Linked DNA regions of Homo sapiens: all the other regions are linked to region 1. The links come from fine-mapping of genetic effects on gene expression. A gene starts in region 1. Each other region holds a variant in brackets. All regions are shown on one strand. Distances are from middle to middle. Region 1 holds the start of SGCD (sarcoglycan delta). Region 2 has its middle 290 kb from the start of SGCD. Region 3 overlaps SGCD (sarcoglycan delta).

What was found.
Region 2: its variant is fine-mapped to the expression of SGCD in aorta (GTEx, PIP above 0.99).
Region 3: its variant is fine-mapped to the expression of SGCD in adrenal gland (GTEx, PIP above 0.99).

What each region holds. Positions count from the first base shown.
Region 1 is chr5:156,322,732-156,330,995 of GRCh38, reverse strand. SGCD (sarcoglycan delta) reads right to left here and starts at 3,832. Exons shown (of 9, transcript NM_000337.6): 1 at 3,764-3,832; 2 at 1,417-1,462. The coding sequence starts at 1,419. The region is part of intron 2 of LOC124901120 (a long non-coding RNA gene); the gene reads left to right.
Region 2 is chr5:156,033,278-156,041,558 of GRCh38, reverse strand. It overlaps a transcript of SGCD not described here. Among named protein-coding and RNA genes, the nearest start is that of SGCD, 290 kb to the left of the region's middle. The variant T/C (reference allele first, on the strand shown) is at 4,671.
Region 3 is chr5:156,478,636-156,486,635 of GRCh38, reverse strand. All of the region lies in intron 3 of SGCD (sarcoglycan delta), which reads right to left. Among named protein-coding and RNA genes, the nearest start is that of SGCD, 160 kb to the right of the region's middle. The variant G/A (reference allele first, on the strand shown) is at 4,726.

The DNA.
Region 1 (8,264 bases):
AATGCTAAGTGCATTATCTGTACAATCTCACAACACACTATTAGGCAGATACTTTTGTCTTGTCCATTTTAGAGATTAGGAAATTGGGACACATTTTGGAGATGATGTAACTTGCCTATGGCCACACAGCCAGGACCCCAGTCTTCGTTTGAGGCAGACCCTGAGCTCAGTTCACAATATAACCACTTTTCTTCCACAGCAAGATGATACCACCTTCCATTTTTTTCTTTCTTGCTGTGCTTCCTCTCCCTACAATCACCCTCTTCCTTTTCGGTTAACACATGTATGAAGTCCTCACCATGGAATGTGCATTGTTCAGATGACTAAGTTGAGCTCAAGGAGCCATAGTTTTTGTCAGGAGAAGGCTCACTGAAATATGTTCAAAGAAGAGTAAAGAAAGAGTGCAGGAAAAGATGGAGAAATGGGTGAAATGACTCAAGACACCCAGCCTTAAGGGAGACAGACTAAGAGTTATTCTTAAAGAAAAGGAAGAGCCTCAGGATTACAAAAATCATAGGTTGTGAAAACAGAAAACAATTCAGAGGTATCAGATCATCTTACAGATAGGAAACCTGAGATCTGAAGATGAATGGAGCCAGGACCTGACCTAAGATTTCTGACCACCTCTACCTTTCCTCCCTCTCTCAACCCCACTTCTGCCCCCAGTACCAGCACGTTCGTCAGACGTGGCTTAGGAAACTATCCAAGATGCTTGAAACCAGAAGTGTTTCTGACTTCAGATTTTTTTGGATTTTTGGAATATTTGCATTATACTTACCATTCAGCATTCCAAATCTGAAAATCCGAAATCAGAAACGTTCCAATAAATAATTCCTTTGAGCATCATGTCAGTGCTCAAAAAGTTTCAAATTTTGAAACATTTCAGAGTTCAGATTTTTGGATTTGGGAAGCTCAACACATGTACAACCAACGATGTAGTATGTGCCCTTGGAGATTTTTTTTTTTTTTTTTTTTTTTTGAGACTGAATCTTGCTCTGTCGCCCAGGCTGGAGTGCAGTGGCGCCATCTTGGCTCACTGCAAGCTCCACCTTCCGGGTTCACGCCATTCTCCTGCATCAGCCTCCCGAGTAGCTGGGACTACGGGCGCCCACCACCATGTCCGGCTAATTTTTGGTATTTTTAGTATAGATGGGATTTCACCGTGTTAGCCAGGATGGTCTCCATCTCCTGACCTCGTGATCCACCTGCCTCGGCCTCCCAAAGTGCTGGGATTACAGGCGTGAGCCACCGTGCCTGGCCTGCAGATTTTTTAAAATAAAAAAGTAAAATTAAAGAAATGTCTTCATCAGGATAAGGCATATATAACACTTTGTTCTCTTTTTCAAAAGTTTATGTTAATAATAAAATGACCATGAGCAGGGCCTTGAACAAGCTTCGCTCCCGGGAATTACTCACCATCTCCACCTGGTCCCTTCACTCAACACTCCCGGCAGTAATGTCTCTGCAAGGAACAAATATGGGTTAAAAATAAGGTCTGAAGAGCCTGCCCCCTCCTTGCCTAGGAAATCTGAACCCTCAGGCAATGCCATTCTTACAAAATGTGCTTTCTGATTACTTCCAGAAGGCAGGGCAGGCTGACCATGCAGTCTCCTGTGGTGAAGTGGCTAAAACAATTCTCTTCACCAAGGCCACTGAGTATCTGCACACCTCCAGTCCAACAAATCAGTGCCTGGTGGCTTTGGCTATTTCTAATACATGTGTTTCATTCCTGTGCCAAGGGCTCCTCCCTCCACCCTCACTGCCCAGTTTGTGTTGTGGCCATTCCTCTCCCTTCACTGCCTCCACCTCTGTCCTGGATTTCTTCCTCTGTATCCTTCCCCCTTCCGCTGCTTACTTTTTCTCTTCAGATGTCAAGAGAGCTTGACTTCTCCCTACTTTACTTCTAAAAAAGAGAGAAACTATAGAGTTTCTACCAAGTTTCAAGCACTGCTCTTTATAATCCTGCAACCTGGAGTTGCTATTTCACGCCTCTTCTGCTCAATGCTTGACGCACGCTAAATATAGAGGAGTATGACACCCGAGCTCATGGAAGGCTCCCTTTTTCATTGGCAGTGGGCTTGACTACGGTTCATGCCAGTTCCTAATCTGTCTTGGCATTTTTCTCACTCATTAGGCACTTTAGAGAAAAAAATAAGGTCACAGTCCATCCTGACTTCTAACTACACCCCCTTCCTTTCCTCAAGCCCTGCAGTCCCCAAACCCTCCCCACACCACCCCAACACGAAGATGAAACTAATAAAGAAAATGTTCATGAACCATCTCTTAAAGATATCCTGCTGCCAGTCCTGTCCCAGGTCCCTCCTCCAAGTACAACACTTGGAAGAAAAAAGAAAATCGCTGGCTGAAAATCCTGACCTTCTACCAACAGGACAGAATGTGTGCCTTCTCATTCTAGGTCTTATGCAGAGGAAGCAATGAGAAATGCTGGCTCTCCACTTTTCTTTCAGCATTAACTTCAGGCTCTTCTATTAGCTACTTGTTTAAAGATTGTAGGACACAAGTAAATGCACACCTGTTGTCACAGAGATCCACCCTAAGAGGTCTAGTCACTCTTCAGCTACTCAAGAAGTATCCAAGATTCCATTCATTCATCCATCTCCCCAACCAGACTTTTGGCCAAGCCCCGTTCGGAAAAAACCAATGTTGTCACAGATTGCTGTGCTAGTAATTGTAAAGCAGTTGTAAGGTTTAGCTCGGCTTTGGGCTGAACCAGTCTCTCAAATGCAATGACATTGTACTGTGTGTTTTCTAAATGCTGTACATAAAACAAGGTATAGCTTTCCTATGAGAGGAAAAAATCTATACTGCAATAGAGTTGATAAAGAAGAACCAAAACTGAAGAGGAACACTAAGATCCCTGTTGTGCTGAAAATTTTTAAAACTTTGATTTTTATAAAAAGCTCTTTTGCAGTAAGGTGTAAAATAAAACCAAGAGATCAATGAAATAAAATTCACACCATCATGTCTCTGTCCTTTAAGAAGAATTTTGAGTAAACTGCCATTTTCTGTTACTTTTTTATTATCTATGTTTCCTAAAATACAGAAGTGTTTTTTGAGAGTAAAACTGCAAATTACTTCAAGTGAGAAAATTGGAAATGATTATAGAAACAGAATTACAAATGTTGATCCAGCATAATTCTAGGCAAATATATCACTGACAGTCAAATCCCAGATAATGACAGTCAAACTCCTATATAAAAGATTTTAGAAACCCATACACACATATCTGTTTCGACACTCTGAAAGTGTCATCCAACGTAGAAACTTCAAACTCTGATTCCCTCCTAAAATGAGAGCCATTTTCTACTATTAAAAAACAACAACAACAAAAAACTCCCCATTAAAACTCTTGCGAAGTGAAGCAAAACACACAGACAGTTTCATCTGAAATTATCTTCCTTGCCAGTGAACGGCCCTTCCACGCAGAAAGGAAAAGTTACAGATGGTTGGAGCAGGGTGACAACATAAGGAATTCACATACTCCTCTTTACACAATAACGTTGCCAGCTAAATCCTAACTTTCAAAAGAAGTCTCTCTGCCCTGCTGAAAATCAGACCTTAAAGGGGGAAAAGCACAGATTGGAGCCCCATGCCAACTGTTTACATGACGGAGTTCTAACTTGCTAATTCACACACACACACATGCACACACTAAAAACTCGGAGTGCCTGCAAATACAGCAGGCAGATAGCTTAGAAAGTGAACAGACGCGTGCAAACGCAAGAACTGAACAGTACCCTACCTCTCTTGTCCGTTTCACAAACCGGCCGATGAAAACCGCCCGCGATCCCAGGGCGTGCTGAGCAGCTCTGAAGGAGGTGGCCACTCGGCCCGCTGAGTGTGTGCAGGCCCAGCCTGCGCTCAGAAGCTGCCCCAGTCAGATTTTCCAACTGCAGAACTGCAGCCAAGTCCCTGCCCATGCCTGAAGAATTTCCTGAACAGCATTCCCGTTCTTTTTCTGACTGCTTTGAAACCGTACTCCGTACTTCAATATGGCTTTGTCAGACCGACTCACAGCTACTGGGCTGTCTCCAGCTATCAATGGGAAACACATGTGTCAAGCACAGGCCGACTCCCCTGCAACAGCGCTCATGGTGTCTGCCGGGCTCATACTCACAACCAGAAAGAAAACTGCTTCTACAACCAATTCTGATTTTTCAGCCATTCTCCACACAGCCTCTGCTCTGTAGTGCTAGATGCTGGAGATAAGTCCTCTCTTTCTTCTGCTCAACACTGCTCCTTTTTCACTTGCTCCTTACACTTGAGTCCCCAGCTGACCCCTGTCAGCCCCCTGAGCTCTTGCCAGTCCTGATAACAAGCTTATTACAGCTGAGAGATGTAAATTCTAATTTGATCTCCCTACCTGCCGCTTCCTAAATCTTTGCTCAAAATTTCAATTGCTTGAGGGGGAGCAATATTTTTAGCATTTCCACACTGGTACAGTTCTTCGGAGCTGTCCCCTCAACCTGATATGTACATTTTTTGCTGCAGCAACTAAAAATAATGCAATTATTTTTCAGGCACTTTTGTTGCTCTCTGTTCTGCAACAGTGCTGGTCCAAAAATGTAACATTTTATAGGCTGTTGGAATGTGTGTTATGGTTATGGAAAATAGAAAAGAGAAAAGAATGTACTTTGAATCAGAATGCGTCCTAATTCTGTGCACCTGTGATTATTTCTGGATGACACTCCCTCAAGATGCCCTGTGTACATTCTGCTGGATTTGATGCTCTACCTTTGACATTTTCCCTTTCCATGCAACAAGAGGAAACCTCAAAACAGGAGGACACCCCTCTTCTCCCACACTGAAAAACCCCCATATCTAAAGAGCCAGAGCAAAGTTGTCAAGGTAACATTGTAGAAAAGAGGTGATTTAAAGAGAGAGGAGCATTTGTTTTGAACTGTTTCTTTTTTCTGTTTTTGGTATTAACATTTTACTTCCAAAAATCACACCCCATTGGCAACTTATTCTAAAGAACTGGCTTGCCAGATTTTAAGTGTTGTATGTTCTTGAGGGGATGTTGTAAGTAATAGGATTCGGTGGGGTCGTGAGTTTAGCATCAAATTACACTGGGCACTTTGAGCAGGATTAGATTTTCGCCTTGGGAAGCAGTGGGGTGGGAGGCGGTGTGGGGAGGTGTGTGTGCACATCTAAGGTCAAGATGCAATTACAGAATCAGATCTTTGGAGTTGGAGACACCCCAGAGATCATCCAATCCAAATTGTTTCCACCCTTCATTTTACAGAGGGAAGTAGAGGCCCAGACAAATGAGATGACTTGTCCAGGGTTTTAAAGACAGTTAATACCAGAGCTGAAGCTAGAAATGGGATTGGTGCTCTCTTTTTCTATCTGCTTTCTCTACTGCAGCATAATTTGGGAAGGTGATATCATCTAGCCTTCTAATCAGATAGCCTGGGTCTAATCTTAGCTCTGCATCTTACTGACTATAAACCCTGGTCAGCTTGCTTAACCTCTCTCGATCTGTTTCCTCATCTGTGAAATGGGAACCATAATAGAATCTACTGGTAGAATTGTTAAGGATTCAGTGAGATAATCTGTGTAAAGTGTTTATGACTGCCTATAAATACATTTCAGTTTACTTTTTTTTTTAATGGAGCAAAATGCAAACCTTTTCTCTAACCTAAAAGCCAAATTGTACTCTCCCATCTAGTGTGAGTTCTAGAATAAAGTATTTGAGTGGCTAGTTTTCTGCTGCTTTAACTTTATGTAATAGGGGCCTGTCACCTTAAACTTGGAGAACTGTCCTGAAGCCTTATTGGAACATTAAGCCAGCTATACCGCTACTTTCCATTTATTCCCTAAATATAACACTGAAGTCTTTCCTTGAGATTAACTCACAGAAAAGAAAAACAGTGAGATCAAATCTGCAGTCAGTTACATGAGGCTGAACAAAGTGTCATTCCAGAGAACTGGGCTTTATACCTTAAGAGCTCAAAATTATCATTCTATAAATAGAAGACTATTAACAATTACAATGTTCATGTTTGGAAATGGCAACGTCCTAAATTAACAATAATAGCAAAATAAAATCCCACAAGTTGAGGAAGAAATCTTTCAGAGAAAATAGCTGCTGCAAATTCTAAAGAATCAGACTTCTACGTGGGGTTCCACAGTCTTTGAGAGCCAGTGGTAGCAAATTGCTAATGAACCGCTTATTGTTTATTATTCACGTTTTATGCCCTGCTTCTTTTCAGGGAAAAAAAAAAAGAAGTTTTAAATAGTTGAAGAAGTTAATCTTGAATGTTCTGGTAATCAATTTAAAAAAAACTCAAGCTGATACTCAGCCCTAATCAAACAATGCTGATATGATTCACGAGACCCTGCCCTCATGTCTCCCCAAAGACTTGTTATGTGGCTCATTTCAATGTGGGCATCTGGAGAGATCTCAGTTTGAGACCCAGCTTTATAACTGCTAGCTAGAAAATCCTGAAAACATACTTAATTCTTCTAATGTTAAGAAATGTTATGCAAAACTTGAAAAATATAGCCAAAAGGTAGTCTTTTTTTTTTCAATATCATATGCGGGAATTGTTTCACAGGCCCTCTCAAGAAGTATTTAAGGGGAATGTCATTTGTTGAAGATAGTTTGCTATTGAAAAACATTTCCAGATTTATTACAGGTACATGTTAACTTGGAGACTTTTATCTGATAAAGATGCAAATAATTTCTTTCCAGTAGAGAAAATAACCTCAAATGTGATGATTTGTTGCCCTCCAGGACATTACCAGTCTTGTACCTAATGTAGTCTCTGCTAGCATCCCTTTGTTAACAAACCTATAAATAATGAGCTCCTCAAATGTTCTTGGAACCAGTCTTACCATCACACCAATTCCCCCACTAATTAAGGAGTCAAGTAAAATATCTGACATATCTGCTTTTCATATTTATATGTCATGTTTTTAACTTTTTAAAAAGTATAATTTGACAGTTTTATTCTTTCCACCTATATGAGTGTTATGAGGATTACGTGAAATAATGTGTGATAATCACTTAGCGAAATGCATGGCACACAGTAAATGCTCAAACTATGTAGGCACTGCTAGTATTTAATACGATAGGACTGTACTCGGTTCTCACTTTTGCAAAGGACTCCTCATCAGTCTCCTTCCTATTACACCTTTTTATTCTTACCATTAGATTCCTGAATCCCCTCTGCAATGGCTGTGCCTGCTGGAATCCTTCCATACATGGTGACCTCTTTGCTTCTCACAGACTTCCACTTTTAATGTTCTAAAATTACAACTAAAATATGTCTCCCTATCACATATTCTATGGTTGCTAATCACAGAAGTCGGTTAAAAATTATGATACTGAAGATCATATGAACCAGAAAACTTCAATCTTCACTTGAATATAAGCTCCATGCGGGCAAGGATTTTTGTCTACTTCATTTTCTGCCATTTTTCCAATGTCTAGGATGGGTATATAGTAGACCCTCATTTTTACCCATTGAATAAATAACATCTTTTGACTTACTTGAAAACTGAGATTCCTACATTATCCTTTTCAAAGGATATTTTTACTGTAGATTAAACATATCTGGAGCTACTCGACCATTTCTCTCCATCGTGTTTCAGATTCCCTTTGTCACCTGATTGGCTTTTTTCCTGGGAATATTTCAGTTTCCTTAATTTCCTCCTTGAGTGTGGTGCTGAGAAGTGAACAAACTTTGCAGGTACACTGGATCTAACGCAAAGAGAGGAGGAACAACTCCTTCTCTCATTCAGAAGCTATACTTCTATTGATGCAATCCATGAACATATTAGGTTTGGAGGTAGTAACCTGGAGTCATAGTGAGTCATGTCAGCTTGGACCACTCTATGACAGGTGCTAGTATTAACCTCATCTCCCACAACATTTATGTCGATGATGTTCAGGCCTAGATTTATATTAGAATCACCTGGGGTAGCTTTTAAGCTGACTAGAGCCAGGGTCCCACCCCAGAGGTTTTGATTCTATTAGAATCAGATGGCCACCAGGCAACAGTATTTTTTAATCCCCTCAGATGATTCCAATGTGAGCCAGACTTAAGATTACTAAGTTACAGGATCTTTTAAAACATAAATCTGATTGCACAACTCTTTGACCTCAAATCTTTAAATGGCTGACCATTGCCTAAAAGGGAACAGCAGCAACCCTCAACTGGTCTGTCACACACTTCTTTAGCCTCATCTGCTGCCACTCCCTCATTCTTCTAATCCTTCAAATAAATCATGTATCT
Region 2 (8,281 bases), 290 kb after region 1:
AATAACTTCAATCCTGTTGAAAATCAATTAAAAAACTCGATCTCTACTTTAGGCAGAACATTCTTCCTTCAGGCCCTCCTCTCCACCATCTCTCTTCTGATATTTCTACCCTTCCCTACTAAATAACAGTGTCTGCCTTTCGGAAGTATCGGAAAAAAATTTCTACCTGTGCTCCTATCCTTCCTCATTCTTCCATGCGCAAATGAGGAGAATGGGATAATCTTCCCAGTAAGGAAGGAACTGGACCGAAGTACAAGGCAATCAACCCATTCTGGGGCTCAGCACGCTAGACTGTGGATAAGTCAACCTGATTCAGAGGTGCTGTTGGCCTAGGCCATCTTTATTAGCTCAGCTTATCTGTGAGGCCTGTGTTGACTTTTCAATTGGTTTATAACTTACAGAGGGAAAAAGGGTATGATGTGCCTCCAGATACACATCTGATTATGCTTTTATAAGTCCTGACATTGAGCTGATGCTGGGAAGGATACTGGAAAAAAACACTATTTCAAATCTACTTCAGAAGGAAACACAGAACATCACAGTTTATGCCTCAGAACAATAACAGAAAAATCCCAAGAAGTTTACTTTTTTTGAATTGAGATTCTAAATCTGATGATGTTTTATTAATAGGCTACTATAAAATCAAAATGGGCCTTCAGCCAGTACATTCCTAAATTAGAGGCTTACACATCACTGGGCCAAGCTCCATCAGGATGGCACTAGATTCAGTAGAGGATTTTCAAAGCCCTAAAATAATCTGATGTAAGACTTAATATTAGATGCCCCATTATAAGAGATAATGAAAAATGTTATCTAAGTGGAAATGAAGGCATGCATCTGCCCACACTCATGGGAGGGTCACCAACAGCTGGATGAGAGATCCTGCACACTACACCACACCACCTAGGCCTATGAATTCATTTGCTCTGACAGCAAATGCAGAAGAGTGGAAAGTGGTGGCTTTTCACACTCACCGATTTTAATTCAACAAGGATCTAATCAGTTTCTACTTGGTATGCAGTGTGCTAGTAGTGCTGGCTGCCCTAAAGCATAAAAACACGTGTCATCTGGCTTGTTGTGTACTCCACAATGGTATTTTTGAGTTCCTCTACTGGATAATTATAATCAGGGACAGATCCACATTTTGTGGGGCTAGAAGCTTACACAATTTGTGGGATGCTCTTTAAGAAAGAGAATATAAAATTATAAACACAAAATATAGTGGACATTCTTGAAAGGGGCTCCCGCTTGTCGGAGACGCCAAGGCTTAAGCTTCATCAGTAAATCCTTCTCTGGCTGTAGCACAGTAGTGCTACATACAATTCCCATAAAATTATCTAGCAAATGGTCTGCTTAATGTAAAAGGAATATGCAAGGGGTGAAGCACCAATGATGATGGTGATGACGATAATGATTATATTTATACAGCGCTTACCTCTGTATCACTTCATGCTTTTGCCATTGGTCAGTATAAACCTATGTCAGAAGCTGGATGACAGCTCTTTGCTAATCTCCATTGTCTTGGAGCTCCACTTTTAGCTACTCTCTCCCACATAAAACTCCTTGTGTGGAACCTGCTGCTCCTACAAATGGCCTGACACTCACTGTAACTTATCTTCACAGTGCACCATTCAGAAGAATTTGAAGAGACTGCACATCAATCTCTTTCATTTCTAGAGCAGTTTAGAGGATTTTTTTTCTTTTATATAGGAGTCATGACAAGAGCCAACTGAAGCTTTTCTGCAAATACATCTCCCACGATATGTTACTTCTCTTTCTCTTTCACGATGCTGAAACAGAAAAAGGAAACTACTCTCTCCGTAGTAAAAGGAGCTTCATTGGATACCCTGCAAGGTATAAAAGCTGAAATGAGAAATGAGAAAACATACAATTCTTTAAGTCTAGGTAAGTTAGATTTCCAAGTGTTGCTTTTCCTTAACTGCTCAGTTGATGTTCAGACAAATGTTTCAATTGTCTAGTTTTCAGTTTATTATTTTATTCAACAGATAGTTTAAATATCTACCATGTGCCTGTACTTTATTAGACCCTAGCAATCCAGCCATAAATTTGTGAGAAAGAGCACATGCTTAGATACCATCATGCAAAAACAAAACCTCCCAAGGAGCTTGCTCCTTTCCTTGTCAATGGAGGATGTTGCCTTTAATTTTGATTCAGGATGCTGAGGGGTCTGGGTGGGGGCATACAGAGATAAAAATAGCAAACAGCATTTGAAATTTTCTTTAAAAATTGAAAATCAATATTGTCAGTTAGAAATGCATATATTAATAGTATGCTGTAGAAGGTAAAAAATGAACATGCAGAACTAAGTGTGCTGGCTGATTCACTAGAGAGGCATAGGGTATGACAGGAGCAAAAACTAAATGGTCTTATTGGTTCTTAGGGCTAGGTGGTGGAGTGGGCCATAAAGGAGGGCTTCTTAAAGGAAGTTGACTTAGGATAGAACCCAAATGTCTTTACGTATATGGGGACTGGGATGCTACCTTGATAAAAAGCTCCTGAGGCAGGAAAGGGCTATTTCTGTTTCTAGGGGGAAGATGAGGATGTCTGAATTGAAGAGCGAGCAAGCAGGTGGCCCTGGTGACATGGTCAGAGGCCAAACTGAGCAGGGTTTTGTAGGCCCTGCTAAGGATTTTGCCTTTTACCTAATATATACCACTTTGCATATTTGTAAAAACAATGTTAGACAGGAAAAAAATTAAAACAGCCTCAATGTGTGGTATGGGAGAAAGAGCCCTTTGTAGGTTCTTCTGCGCCTTTTCTAGAAACACAGTGCAAAGATCCCCAAGGAAGAAAGGCTGTTTATCCCCATATTCCCCATCTAACAAAGTAAGGAACAAAGTAAGGCTTTATGTAGCCATGTTGCCTCTGTAAATTTTGCTTTCTTGACTCGTAAAGAGAAAGCTTTGGTCATTTTGTGTGTGTGTGTGTGGGAGCCATTTTTTTTTTTACTTTTTATTTTGAAATAATTTTAGATTTGCAGGAAAGTTGCAAATACAGTACAGAGTTCCTGTATGTATCACATCCTAATAATTTTCCCTAAGATCAACATCTTATATAGCCATGGTGCATTCATGAAAGATGAGAAATTAACATTGGCATAATACTATTCACTACATTATAGACTTTTTTTCAGATGTCATTGATTTTTTTTCTGTTCCAGGACCTACTTTATGCTATCCCATTGCAATTAGTTGTCAGGTCTCCTTAGTCTCCCTCAATCTATGACAGTCTCTTCATCTTTCCCTGTCTTTCATGACCTTGATACTTTTGAAAAGTACTGGTGAGGTATTTTGTAGAATGTCTCCCTGCCTTAGGATCTATCTAATGCTTTCTCATGATTGGCTGAGGATATGAATTTCAGGGAAGGATGCCTTCTCATTGGCCTAATGATTTGAAGTTCTCTAACAGCTCTGGGTGTTATAAGAAAGGTAATTTCCCTGGTCTCTATCCCCATCTTCACTCTACCAGATCCAGAATAATCCACATATCAGATATGAAAGAAGTTTAAGATAGGACAGTTACGGGAAGGCTTGTGTACTATCTAGTTTTCTTTTTAGGGGGCTCATTAACCTTTGACTCTCCTCAAACTTTATTTGTTCTATTCATTGCCTGCATTTTTGCCTTCTCCCTGCACCCTGTAGCTACTACAGATGCAATATATTATATTGACATGATAAGTATTATGTTTCTTCAAAGAGCTTTTTTAGCATGATTACTTTTGGTCTTTAATAACCCCAGGGAATTTCTTTCTAGATAGCCTAGTCTGTCTACATTGGCAGGGAATTAACACGTGCAAGACCTGTGTCTGCAAATTTTCCAGACCTCACTGTTTGTTCTTTAAAAAGACAATGACTCATTCCCAATTATCTTTTATCTTGTAGACAGAGCCATCTTCCTGAATTTAAATCACAGCCATCAACAAGCTACCTAATCTATGAGTGGAATCTTTAAAGATGGAACACAACAGATGCAAGATGTTTTATGTGTCCTAAATAAGTTTGTGTAGGTAACTTTCATTTTAGGTCAATTTGACAGGCCAAATTGCCTGCTTACAGAGTTTAGGGAATTAGGACCTGAGAACTGTGCAGGTGCCATCAGGGGAATGCAAAGATGTGAAGAAATGCCTGGGACTGGGGAAAACATTGAGGAGAAAATGACTGCAGCTGCACTGTTTTATCAGCTCCATCACACTTGCTGTCACTGCCTTGAACACACAGTGTTCCCTTCTGCCTCAGGGCCTTTGCACATGCCACTCCTGCTGCTCAGATGGCTCCTTGTCCCCAGCTTCTTTTGCCTCTCTCAGGGAAGCTTTCACCCACCTCCCAGAATAGATCTGGTCCTCCGTCATCTACTTTTACAATTCCACATGTTTTTCCATCATAGCAAGTAATAAAATTTGTAATTACATGTCTGTGTTGTAATTGAATAAAAATAATGTCACCTAAAAATTACTGAGCACTCTTTATGTGTGCCAAGCACTACAACTCTCATTCAGTCTTCAAAACAAAACCATGGGGACACTGAGACACAATCTGATCAATTTCCAGCTCTCCAGTAAACTGTAAGTGGCATGAGGAGAGGTTCTGCATGTCTGTTTTGCTCTACCCTGAATCACTAGTGCTTGGCAAAGAGCTTGGCAGGAAAAAGCT[T/C]GGTCTATATTTATTAAACAAATAACTGCAGCATGACATAGAAGGAGAAACATGTGCTCTGGGGTGAAGCATATTTGGTTCCAAATCTTAACACAGAGTATGAGCCACTCTTAGGAACCTACCAGGCCCCACCAAGTATGGAAATAAAGGAAAATTTGAGTCTCTCCAAGGGAAATTCCAGGCACCTAGCTAGCCCTGTTACCAGCAATTGAGGAAGGGAATAAATAACCCATGAAGCAAGAAAGTAAAAAAAGCTTAAATAACAGTAACCCAAGTAAGTTAGAGTCTCAAGATGTTTTGTTCTCTAAAGAAACCAAAGGTAGCATCTTAACGTATGTCTCTGAGTTGTCTTTCAGAAACCTCGGCCCTCATCAGATGGAAAATGCCTAGTGCTTTCCCATAGACCTTAGATAAGGGGAAAATGAGGACTGAGATCTGACTGTCATTCTTTGCTTTAAATTTCTTCCTGAGGAGCCTGGATAGAGTCATGCTTACAGGACAGACCTGAACATTTCTTTCTGCTGATGATTTTGCCTGAAACTTCTGCTTTCCTGAAATGTACCCCTGCCTTTAAAAACTCTGCTTGTAAGCCACTGAGGAGTTTGGATCTTAAGTGTTAGCCACCTGATTCTCCTTGCTTGGCACCTGCTGTACAAGTCTCTATGACCTCTCACTGCAAATTTTGGTGACAGTGTTGGCTTTTTCAGCCCACCAGGCAAGCAGACTCAAGTTTTATTTAGTGACAATCTCAATTCTGTGATTAGCTAGCTCTGTAAATTATAACAGCTTATTTAGCTTCCCTAAGCCCTGGTCTATCTGAGATCATGAAACCTCATCACAAAAGCCTTTAAAGGATTTAGATGAGATAATATAGGTGAAAGCACATTCTTGTGTCCAGCATGTATATAACTATAAAGCTGTGATATAACTAACAGCTTCCCTATTAAAAAATATTTCTTAGAGTTATAACAGTTCTGCAATTTTTCTTGTGATGGTATCACTATTCCTAAACACCATTTTGATACTTTGCTCACCAAAATGCTACGCTTCAAGATTATCACTTTGTGTTCCTTCTCTGATCTTATTCCAAGAATGAAGATGGGTTAAATATAATTCACAGAAACACGTCTAATGGAAGTTAACAGGAAGTAGTCACTTTACAATCCATTTTATTGGATTATAGAAAGGCAAATTACATTTCTCCTCTGCCATTAGAGAACCACCTAAATAGCCACCCCATTCTACTCTTGTTTTTATTATTATTTTTTATTTTTTTGAGACAGGGTCTCCCTCTATTGAACTCCAAGCTGGAGTTCAGTGGCACAATCATGGCTCACTGTAGCCTCAAACATCTATGTTCAAGTGATTCTCCCACCTTAGCCTCCTGAGTAACTGCAAATATAGGCATGTGCCACCATACCTGGCTAATGTTTTTATTTTTCTTTTGTAGAGACAGGGTTTCGCTACGTTGCCCATGCTAGTATTGAACACTTGGCCTCAAGTGATCCTCCCGCCACAGCCTCCAAAGTGCTGGTTAAAGGCATGAGCCACCATGACTGGCCCTATTCCACTTTTCAGGCAGACAAAATTACTGTTTTAACCACTCTGTTAAGGCTTTGGCAGCAGGTTAAAGTTGCACGAGTAGATGGTAGAATTCAATCCCAAACTTTAAAATGCACAAGACAAAAGGGAATAATATTAGCATTTCAAAGTAGAAAAACAAACAGACTCACCGAGGAAAACTTTAAGAAACACCTTAGGATTAAATTCCTTTGAAGAGCCTTGATTCCTGAAATAACAGAATGGTTATCTAATGGTATCCATTATGTCTCACTAATTGCCTTATGAAACTTACACTGGAAACATGTAGAAGGTATTTATGTATTATAAAAATTGCCAAAAAGTATGATATTAGAAGGTGTTCACAAAAAGAAAATAACAAAACTTGCTTACATTTATTAAGCACTTACAATATGCTAAGCTCTGAACTACACATTTTAACTAAAGTAGTTTTCATTGGATCCTATGACACATTTATCCAACAAATATTGACTAAGTGCTTACTATGCATGAGGCACTGTACTTACAGCAAGACAAACATAGTTCCTGCTTGCATGAAGGATGAAATCTAGTGGGTGAGACACATCTTGAACAGTTTCTTAATGTTTATTGCATAATTTCACATGACCAACTGATTCTGACTTGCCTTGAACTTTCCTGGTTTTTATACTGGAAATTTCACATCCTGAGAATAACTTTCTCAGTACTGGGGGAAGGAGAATAACTGGTCACTTAGCAAAATCACACAAGACACAATTGATTATAGTAAGTGCTATTACAAAGAAGTACAGAGTTATATGAACTACGGATGGTTAGCCCTCTTTTACAGATGAAGATAACAAGGTTTAGGAAAGCTAAATGGCCACATTCATATGTGGGAAAGGAAAGCTTTGAAGCTTCATTGTTCTGGCACCTAATTACATGACCTGATTTCATGTAATGATGATAATATATCTTCTGGTACTTTATACTTCAGAGTCCAAATCTAGACTCGCACTAATTAATGAAATGTTTTCAAAAGGTTTGGTGGAGGAAGGTTCATCAGAACAAGGAAAGACAGAATTCAGAGCAAATCCCTTGGATCTGGATCCTAAATGCAGCTCCATCACTGCTGGAAACACCTGCATATCTTTCAGCTGTGGGTGGCTCATGTGAAAACGAAAGAAAGCATTTTTCTGCTTGACTGGAGTCTTTTGCAGGAGACAAAAAGTGTTTCTTCAAGTGTGAGGAGTGGGGTAGGAGAGAGGGACTATTAAAAATTGGCAGGGCATACCTAAATACCTCTGGGCAGTGGATGAAAAATATCCCTGGAGGGTATTACAGCAGTTCATTTTGGTTAGCAAGACACAGTTTTCCCTTGGTAGAAAGTTGGTGAGGAAAAGATTGTGTCTTGCATTGAACAGTTTGATTTGGCTGGCATCTTTGATATAAAAAATTAAGTGCAAAAATGGGCAATGTGAGCCAGTAAAAAGAGGTTCAGAGTAACCCCCATCATATGCTCACTCCAATGATGGCAGGGTCTTTGGTCTATTTTGGTCACTGCTGTATTCCCTGCACACAGAAAAGGACATTCATTGCACATAGTATGCCCTCCCTAATATTTGTTGAATGGTTGAGGGCGCAAACAATAGTCTTAGTTTCTAATTTGCAAATGTGAGAAAGCTACTTTACCTCCCTGGGCCTTGGCTTTCACCTCCATTAAAGAGGAGAGTTTAACTGGATGACTTTTATTACTTCCAACAAATTCAAATTCAAGGTCTACACTTCAGGTTAAGAATTCATCCATGGATTCTTATTTCACTTACCCTCAGTGAGATAACTCAGAAACAGAAAGTCAAATACTGCATGTTCTCACTTACAAGTGGGGACAAAACAGTGGGTACACACGGACATATAGAAGGAAACAATAGACACTGGGGACGCCAAAAGGAGAGAGGGTGGGAGGAGGGTGAGGGTTAAAAAATTACCTATTAAGTATAGTGTTCACTATTTGGGTGACGGGTACACTAGAAGCACAAACCTTACTATTATGCAATATATGTATGTAAGAA
Region 3 (8,000 bases), 160 kb before region 1:
TGGCAGGTGAGATGATGCTGTCCTCAGGCCTGCAATAGTGTATGCAGGCATTGACATCAGTGGGTGGGGCTGGGTGACCTTCTAGCTCATGGATAGTACAGATGGGCACTAGCAGGGGTGGTGATAGGCAGAGGAGATCCTCAGGTTTCAAAAGGACATCCAGCAGGGCCAGTCCCAAGACCCCTTGAAGGCATGTACAGGTGCACAACAGCTCTGCTACTGCAGGAGGCAGGGTTGTTATCAGTGGCACTGGCTTCAGGCAGTCAGTTCTGATGTTTTTGGAAGTGCCCACTTCAGTCTCCTTTGTCTCAGGGGCAGCCTTTCTGGCGTACCCTGCATTGCCTGTTTCCCAAGGAGTAGGGACATCATGTGTGATAGAGTTCTGAAGATCTAGATGCACCACTAGCTCCTCATGTCCACCCAGAAAACTGTGACACACAGGTTTCTGGGTGGACATGAAGGGATGGCAGTGGGGCTCCAGGAATGTGGAGATGCAGGGATTCTTGGGCCTCAGGGCAGGATATAGTCTGCTGAGAGCTGGGATCTCAAAATGGCATCATGCTACAGTTGCTTGGGTCTTTGGAGAGATGTGGGACCTAGTGTGGACTCCCTCTCTGGAACACTGCTGTTGCATGGTATCTCTCTATACTAGTTTCAGGACCTGCAAAACCTGAGGAGCTCTTCTGTAACTAGGATTGCAGGAGTCCCTGGTGGGAACATGAACTGCTGGGGATCTCTCACCTTTTCTCTGCACTGGGGAGTTTTTCCTGGCTCTGAACTGATCTCAGCTGGACTAGCTGCTTCACTTCTCTCTCCTTCCCTGCCTCAGAGCTCCAATATCACTTCCCTGCTGAGTTTCAGTGTTCTCACAAAGACGCTCCTTCAGTGTGGGATTATCTACCTGTTGCTTTGTCCTGTATTTTTTGTGGAGGAGGCAAATGCTGGGCATCTCCACACACAGCGATTTTTTTTTTATTTTTGAGATGGAGTCTTGCTCTGCCATCCAGGCTAGAGTGCAATGGCGTGATCACTGCAGCCTCCACCTCCTGAGTTCAAGCTACTCTCCAGCTTCGGCCTTCCCAGTAGCTGGGACTACAGGCGTGTACCACCACACCCAGCTAAATTTTTGTATTTTTAGTAGAGACAGGTTTCACCATGTTGGCCAGGCTGGGCTTGAACTCCTGATCTCAGGTGATCCACCTGCCTTGGCCTCCAAAAGTGCTAGGATTACAGGTGTGAGCCACCACGCATGGCCCACACAGCCATTTTGAAGGCCCCTCTAGCATTTCCTTTTTCCACCTTTATTAATGGCTCTCTCTATATACTTTGAGTATAAGGAAGAAATAGTTTTTTCCTACATTCTGTACAACTTGAGTATGTCAGAAAAATTAACAAGCAGGAAGCCTCCCTTATACTCAAAATGTGGAAGAAAGAGATACACAAAATGAGTGCATAGAATAAAACAGCCCTCAGTCCATGTCTAAAAGGTTTGGTGAGGGAGACCTCAAGTTAGCTGGAGAATGTCCTGAAGAGTACCTCTGTTTCTTAGGAATGTCAGACACATGCATTGCAGTAACAACTTCTTACACTTGTAAAAATCGTTATGAAAAAAAAAAAAGTTTGTTTCCAAAGGTTATATGGCAGATATTCCTCATTTACTTTACTGGCACTTTTCAATTTTGGCTCAAATCCTATTATTCAGGAGATATGAATTGGCCAGTGGGAACATTTCCAGCAACAATATTTTGGAATTAAAAACTAATTTAACCAAGATGACCCCTGGAAATTACCAGGCTCAGGTAGAAGGAAACACTGTGACATAAATGGCCATGTGTTATTCATTCCAAGGGGACCCGAGAAAAACTCTTCAATCATCTTTCATCATTTCAGCCACCTTTTTCATCACACCATATCTTCTAATGAGAAAGTCTTAAAAACTGTATATTGTAACCATGACTAATATATATGTGAGAATGAGACCAGGTACAGGAATACAAAAAAGCCATTTCCGAGTATCCGGATAAGAGGGGAATATGAACAGCTTGAAAAAATGTACAGTTTAACAAGCAATTATATAATTAAGATACTAGCTTAGGGAATAATTCAATACTTTCTTCCTTAACTTCGAATTTATAAATGTCTTTTACAGAGTATTGCAGTAGCAGCTTTAGCACTGAGAAGACCCATTCGTAAATGCCGGTTGTGCTCTTTATTACTTACATGACCTTGGGCAAGTCACTTGATACTTTTATCTGCAGTTTCCTCCTCTATAAAGTATTTAACAACATATTCAAGTCACCTAGTGTAGTACATGGCATGTTGTGTGTGCTCCATAAATGTTACTTCTCTTGCTTTATTTTAAAAATAGAGATGTGGCCTTCACATACTCTATCTTTTCAGGAAAAAGAAGGCCTTCTGTTAATGGTAGAGATTTCTGAGGCTAGGATTATTTCACGTTTCCCTTTTCTTTAATGACAATGTCGTTGACTGGAGTATGAGTTTTTTAGTGGATTCAGACAGAAGCCCACAGAGTAATTTCCCTTAGGTCTAGGCTTGACATGTGGGATTCACTGGAGTTTGTTTCTCTGTTTATTAGAAAGGGCCGGTTTCTGGGATGTCAATTTCAGACTAGCGGAAGTACTAACAGTTTCCTTCTGCTGCTGCAGATTAACCTTCAAATCCTGAAACCTTTAACATCAGGCTGCAAAAGCCATTCTACTAGGCAGCAGATTATTGCCTCTTTCATCTCGATTTAGCTCAGTGCACTTGCTCTGAGCACTGTCTCAAAGTTGGTAAGAATGTTAGCGGGAATGCCCCCAAACCAGGTATTTTTTAAAAACCTGGCCACAATGCCACATAGAGAAGTGAATCTCATTTTTAATGGATAAAGTAGTATTTGGCTCTTATTTTGAGGGTCATAAAAACACATTTTACTCACCATAGTCCATGTGCAAGGCACCAGGGTAGTTACCAAGGTGACTGCTCTCAAGAGAGAGATTAAGAAATGCAGAAGAAAAGAAATAATCCGAATGCACCCCATGGTTGACTCCACATACAAATGAAGTTGCCAAATGCCCAGGCCTCGCCTTCTGTTTGGTTATCGATGCACAAATGCAAAAATGAGGTAACATGAACGTGGGTGTGTAGCAGAAGTCAGTAAGCATTGACTGCAAGTATGCCCCTGTGTACTGTGTCAGCTGCAATTTGTATCAATTCTCTCCCCTCAACCTTGGGGTGACTCCCTTCTCCCTCACAGTCAGACATCTGAGATTCTTTGCCTTCTAAAAATGTCTCAGTCTGACACCTGTTAAATATTGAACATGCACCTAAGCAAAGGAAAGATTTCATCTAAGGCAAGTGCTTGATCATGGGGGCTAGGAGGCAAAGTGAGAAGAATACAACTCCACCTCAGCCACATTGACCTTCTTACTGGTCCTCTGAACACACTAAATGGATCCAGCCTCAGAACCTTTGTATCTGCTACTCCCTCTGCCCAGAAGGCTCTTCTCCAGGCTCTCTGCACAGCTGGCTCCTTCACTTAACTCAGGTCTTTGCTCAAATACCATTCATGAGGCCTAGATGAGGCAAGAATGTCTGGAAACATTTTTAGTTGTCACAAGGGGGAGTGGGGGAACAAACAGCATCTGGTGGCTAGAGGCTGAGGTTGCTGCTGAATATACTATGATACACAGGACTGTCCTGTGCAACAAAGAATTCTCCAGTCCAAAATGTCAAAAGTCCCATGGTTGAGAAACCCCACCCTAAACAATTCAAATATGGCTAGTCTCAGCTTACTTAAAAAAAAAAAAAAAAAAAAAAAAACTGACCAAAAGGATAATACTACCTGCTCTAACTCATTATCTTGTAGGGAGGATAGAAATTGATAATGTTCACATAAGTGTCTTGAAAAGTGTTTTATAAATGTTATTTTTCTTTTTAGCTCTTGATACTTCTTCAGATCATACAAGTAGGCTTAAAAGGCATTTATCATCTTACTCATTTACAATGGAATTATGATACTTTGACTTTAAAGAGGATCATTTTTCTAAAGAGAACATAGAGCTTCTTATCTATCAAAGCCTAGTTAGCAACCATTACTGTCCCTATTTTTGAGATTTAAAAAAATGGCAGAAGAAACATATGACCCTTTCTTCAAGGAGAAAAAAACGAAGTTATAGTTATTTCATTCATTGATTCAATGATTATTATGGAATGCTAATATGTGTAAAACACTAACAACAAAGTGAAACAATATTACCCTTCCTATATAATAGATAATGAGCTGAGTGTTCCTGTGTGTGGCTGGTGGCTACCATATCGGACAGTGGAGATTTAAGCATCTTCTATATGTTAGCAGTTTTTTTTTTTCAGGATTTCAATTTTTGAAAACTTCCAGCACGAACTGAAATCATAGTGATCTTTCAGGCTGCAATGACCTTGCAAAACTTGCTTTACCCCATAGCACTAGAATCCAACACCTAATCCCTTGGGTTCCGCCTTGGCTCAAATGCTGATATTTCAGTCTCAGCAACTGCTTTGCTTTCCTCAACATCTCATTAAATACCTGACATTCGGACTGTGACACCCAGGCACAGATGTGGGAAAGGAGCAAGTTTCTGTTTGAGGGGACTGGGACCAGACTGCCTGGTCTGTGGGTCCCGCTGATTCCTGAGTCACTGTCTACAGTTGTCCCTGAACGTGGCATAAGCAGGTGGTGTCTGATCA[G/A]TCAGGATTAATGATGCAAAAGGAAGCTGGCACCTCTTCAAAGACTTGCTCACAGAGGCCACAGGGAGTAGAGAAAGCAAATCCTTGGCCCTGGGTTCCGACCCTGATCCTGGGTTCTGTGTCCAGGTGTGCTCCTTGACCTCAGATGTTTCCATGAAACAGGCTTCTGTTAGTCTCCTTTCATAACTCACCCTAGTAAGGGATCTGAAACTCACAGTAGAAACATTTCTTCTTCTTCCCTAAAATCCTGTGGGGGCAGGTACTATTATTATCTCCCTCTTCTGATAGATGCAGATAAGAAAACCCCAGGGTCATGTAGATCAAGAGACATATAATAACAGATGTTTCAAATTAGGCACCCACGGGCTATTTTGGGCTGGCAGATGTAGTTTTTTTGGATCCACAAAGTGTATTCAATAAAAAATAAAGGAAAGCAAAAACTAAGACACTTAGATTATGAGTTTCTCTTGAAAAGTCATAAGATTTAGCAAGAAGGCCCAAATTCACACATTATTACAACTGGCTGAGCAGCCACTCACCTTTCCACAGGGTCAGGGACATCAAGTCCAAAATATCAATGACACAGACCCCTACCATCTCCCAGCCTTCCCCAATAACATAGACCTCTACCATCCCCCAACTTTCCCCAGGGCCTTTTTATCTACTTGTCACTAGCCAGTCCTTGTAGGTTTTTGAGTTTGTGGCCCTAGCTTAATGCATACCAATATTCTAGGTGAGATAATACTTACTTTTGTTATGGACCTTCTTTGTGCTTTTATACCGTATTAATTATACCAATCTTTACCCCAACATTATGGAGTCATACTATTACTGTGCTCTTGATTTGTCAGATGACAAAAACCAATGCCCTGAGAAATTCAGAAATATGTTCAAAACTGTGATAATGTAAAACGATTAGTGGATGGGTTGGAACTCGCTCCTGGAATCATCTTTCCATTACTTTATAGCACTCCTCCCACCAAATTCTCAGATATATTGTGACCTTTTACATAGTATTCTGTAGTTGTGGCCTTTGAAGGCAATAAGAGTGTTAATGCCTAATGGACATCTTAAGACCCATTGAGCACGTTCCTTAATCACCTAAGATTTAGCTTTTAGAGTTTTCTAGAGAAATTAAAAAAGAACAATTGATTTTCAGTAGTGGCAATTGCAAAGTAGGTAAAGCACCCAGCATTATCTCCAGAAGAGAGCAGGGTTTCAGAAAAACATTAATTCATTCCCCCACAAATCTAGTTAGCTAAAGAAGTTATTAGAACACTTACTATAACGGCCCATGTGCCATCTGGGGTAGCAGCCATGCAGTATGACTCTACCACCAGTGTCAAGGAAAGATCCCAGCTAAAAGCCATCAAGGTCATCTGATTTCCTTTGCACAGTGGCTGGTTCAGGTTGGGCATGTGAAATAAGTTGGTTTAATTAGAGTGAAGCCCAGGGTTTTTATTCAAGAAGAGACTGGGGAAAGACAAGCTCTATCATACTGTAGATATGTGGTATGCCAATGTAATGCCTGGAGCAGCTGCTGCCATTTTGCTATCATGAGTGAAAGCATTTGAGAAGAATCCAACGAAACAGAGCAATACAACTGAGGGAACTTCAGATGAATGGAATCAAAACTCCAATCAAAGCATCACTTCCTCTGAACTCTTCCATTACTTACCAGTCCATTACAGTCTGTCTAATCAAGGCAGAGCTGTTAGGTAGAGTTGAACATACTCATACAGGTAAGTTCAGAGAAATGACAGTCAGACAACCCTCAAGACCAAGGGAACATGCTCACTGGCACATTTCCCTACTGACTACTCAGAGTGTTTGTGACAGCAACTTGCCTTGCTGTTGCATCAGCCATCCCAGTCAGATGGTGAAGAAATGTAAGCCAAGACAGCTGGAGGGCTGATCTTCCACCCACAGGGGCTCCTCCCAGGGCAAGACAGCAGCTGTTGGTGTCTGCTTTGGTTTGAAATTGTAGCAACTGCATATATTCAGGTCAAAGCGGGTAACTTCTTTATGGAAAGTGTTGGAAGAACCAAGAGAGCAGATTCTGAAACTCGCTGTATCAGTCAGTAACCTGTGAATGGGTGATTTGTGTCAACAATGCCTTCTACCTCCTCTCTAAGAACAAAATTAAAGAAAGAAAGAAGAGGAAAGAAATCACTCCAAGACTTTTAGGAAAGCCAGGCCTGTTTCCTAAGTGCATTTGTATCTTCTTTCTTCTACTCTTCATTGTACTGGAACAAAAGGACAAATGCAGGGATTCTTGGAGTTGTGAGCATAGGTAAGATGCCACAGGGGTAGGAGCAAAATGGGTGAATACTCCCTAGGTCTTAGTGCTTTAAAGTCTAAGACAGGGGTCCCAAACTCAAATGCCTACAGAGGTTGGGCCCATGAGCTTAATGACTGAAGTGGGCACCCACATGGAAACTCAGAGAGAACAGACCCTGACAGGGCAGAGTTTCTCAGCTCCAGTTAAATATCTTTGATAAGAATCTTGAAATCTGGCCAGGTGTGGTGGCTCACACCTGTAATCCCAGCACTTTGGGAGGCCGAGGCGGCTGGATCACTTGAGGTCAGGAGTTCAAGACCAGCCTGGCCAACATGTTGAAACCCCGTCTCTACTAAAAGTACAAAAAAAATTAGCCAGACATGGTGGTGCGTGCCTGTAGTCGCAGCTACTCAGGAGGCTGAGGCAGGAGAATCGCTTGAACCTGGGAGGTGGAGGTTGCAGTGAGCCGAGATCATGTCACTGCACTCCAGCCTAGGTGACATAGCCAGACTGTCTCAGGAAAAAAATAAAAATAAATAAAGAATCTTGAATTATATTTTTTAATCTAAAAGTGTCTTAATGTTAAATTTTTGTATGTATACATATATCCCCTCCCAACACTGACAAGATCAAATAAAACATGAGAGTGGGCCGATTTGGCTCTCAGGTGAAAGACAATCAGAGGAGCTGGCTGAATTACCAGAAAGGACTAAGAGGTAGTAGGGTTTGGCTTCTAAAAATGGCAACTGAGCTGGGCACAGTGGCTCAGCCCTATAATCCCAGCACTTTGGGAGGCCAAGGTGAGTGGATCATCTGAGGTTGGGAGTTCGAGACCAACCTGGCCAACATGGCAAAACCCCGTCTCTACTAAAAATACAAAAATTAGCTAGGCGTAGCGGCTCACACCTGTAATCCCAGCCACTCAGGAGGCTGAGGCAGGAGAATTGCTTGAAACCATGAGGCGGAGGTTGCAGTGAGCTGAGATTGCACCATT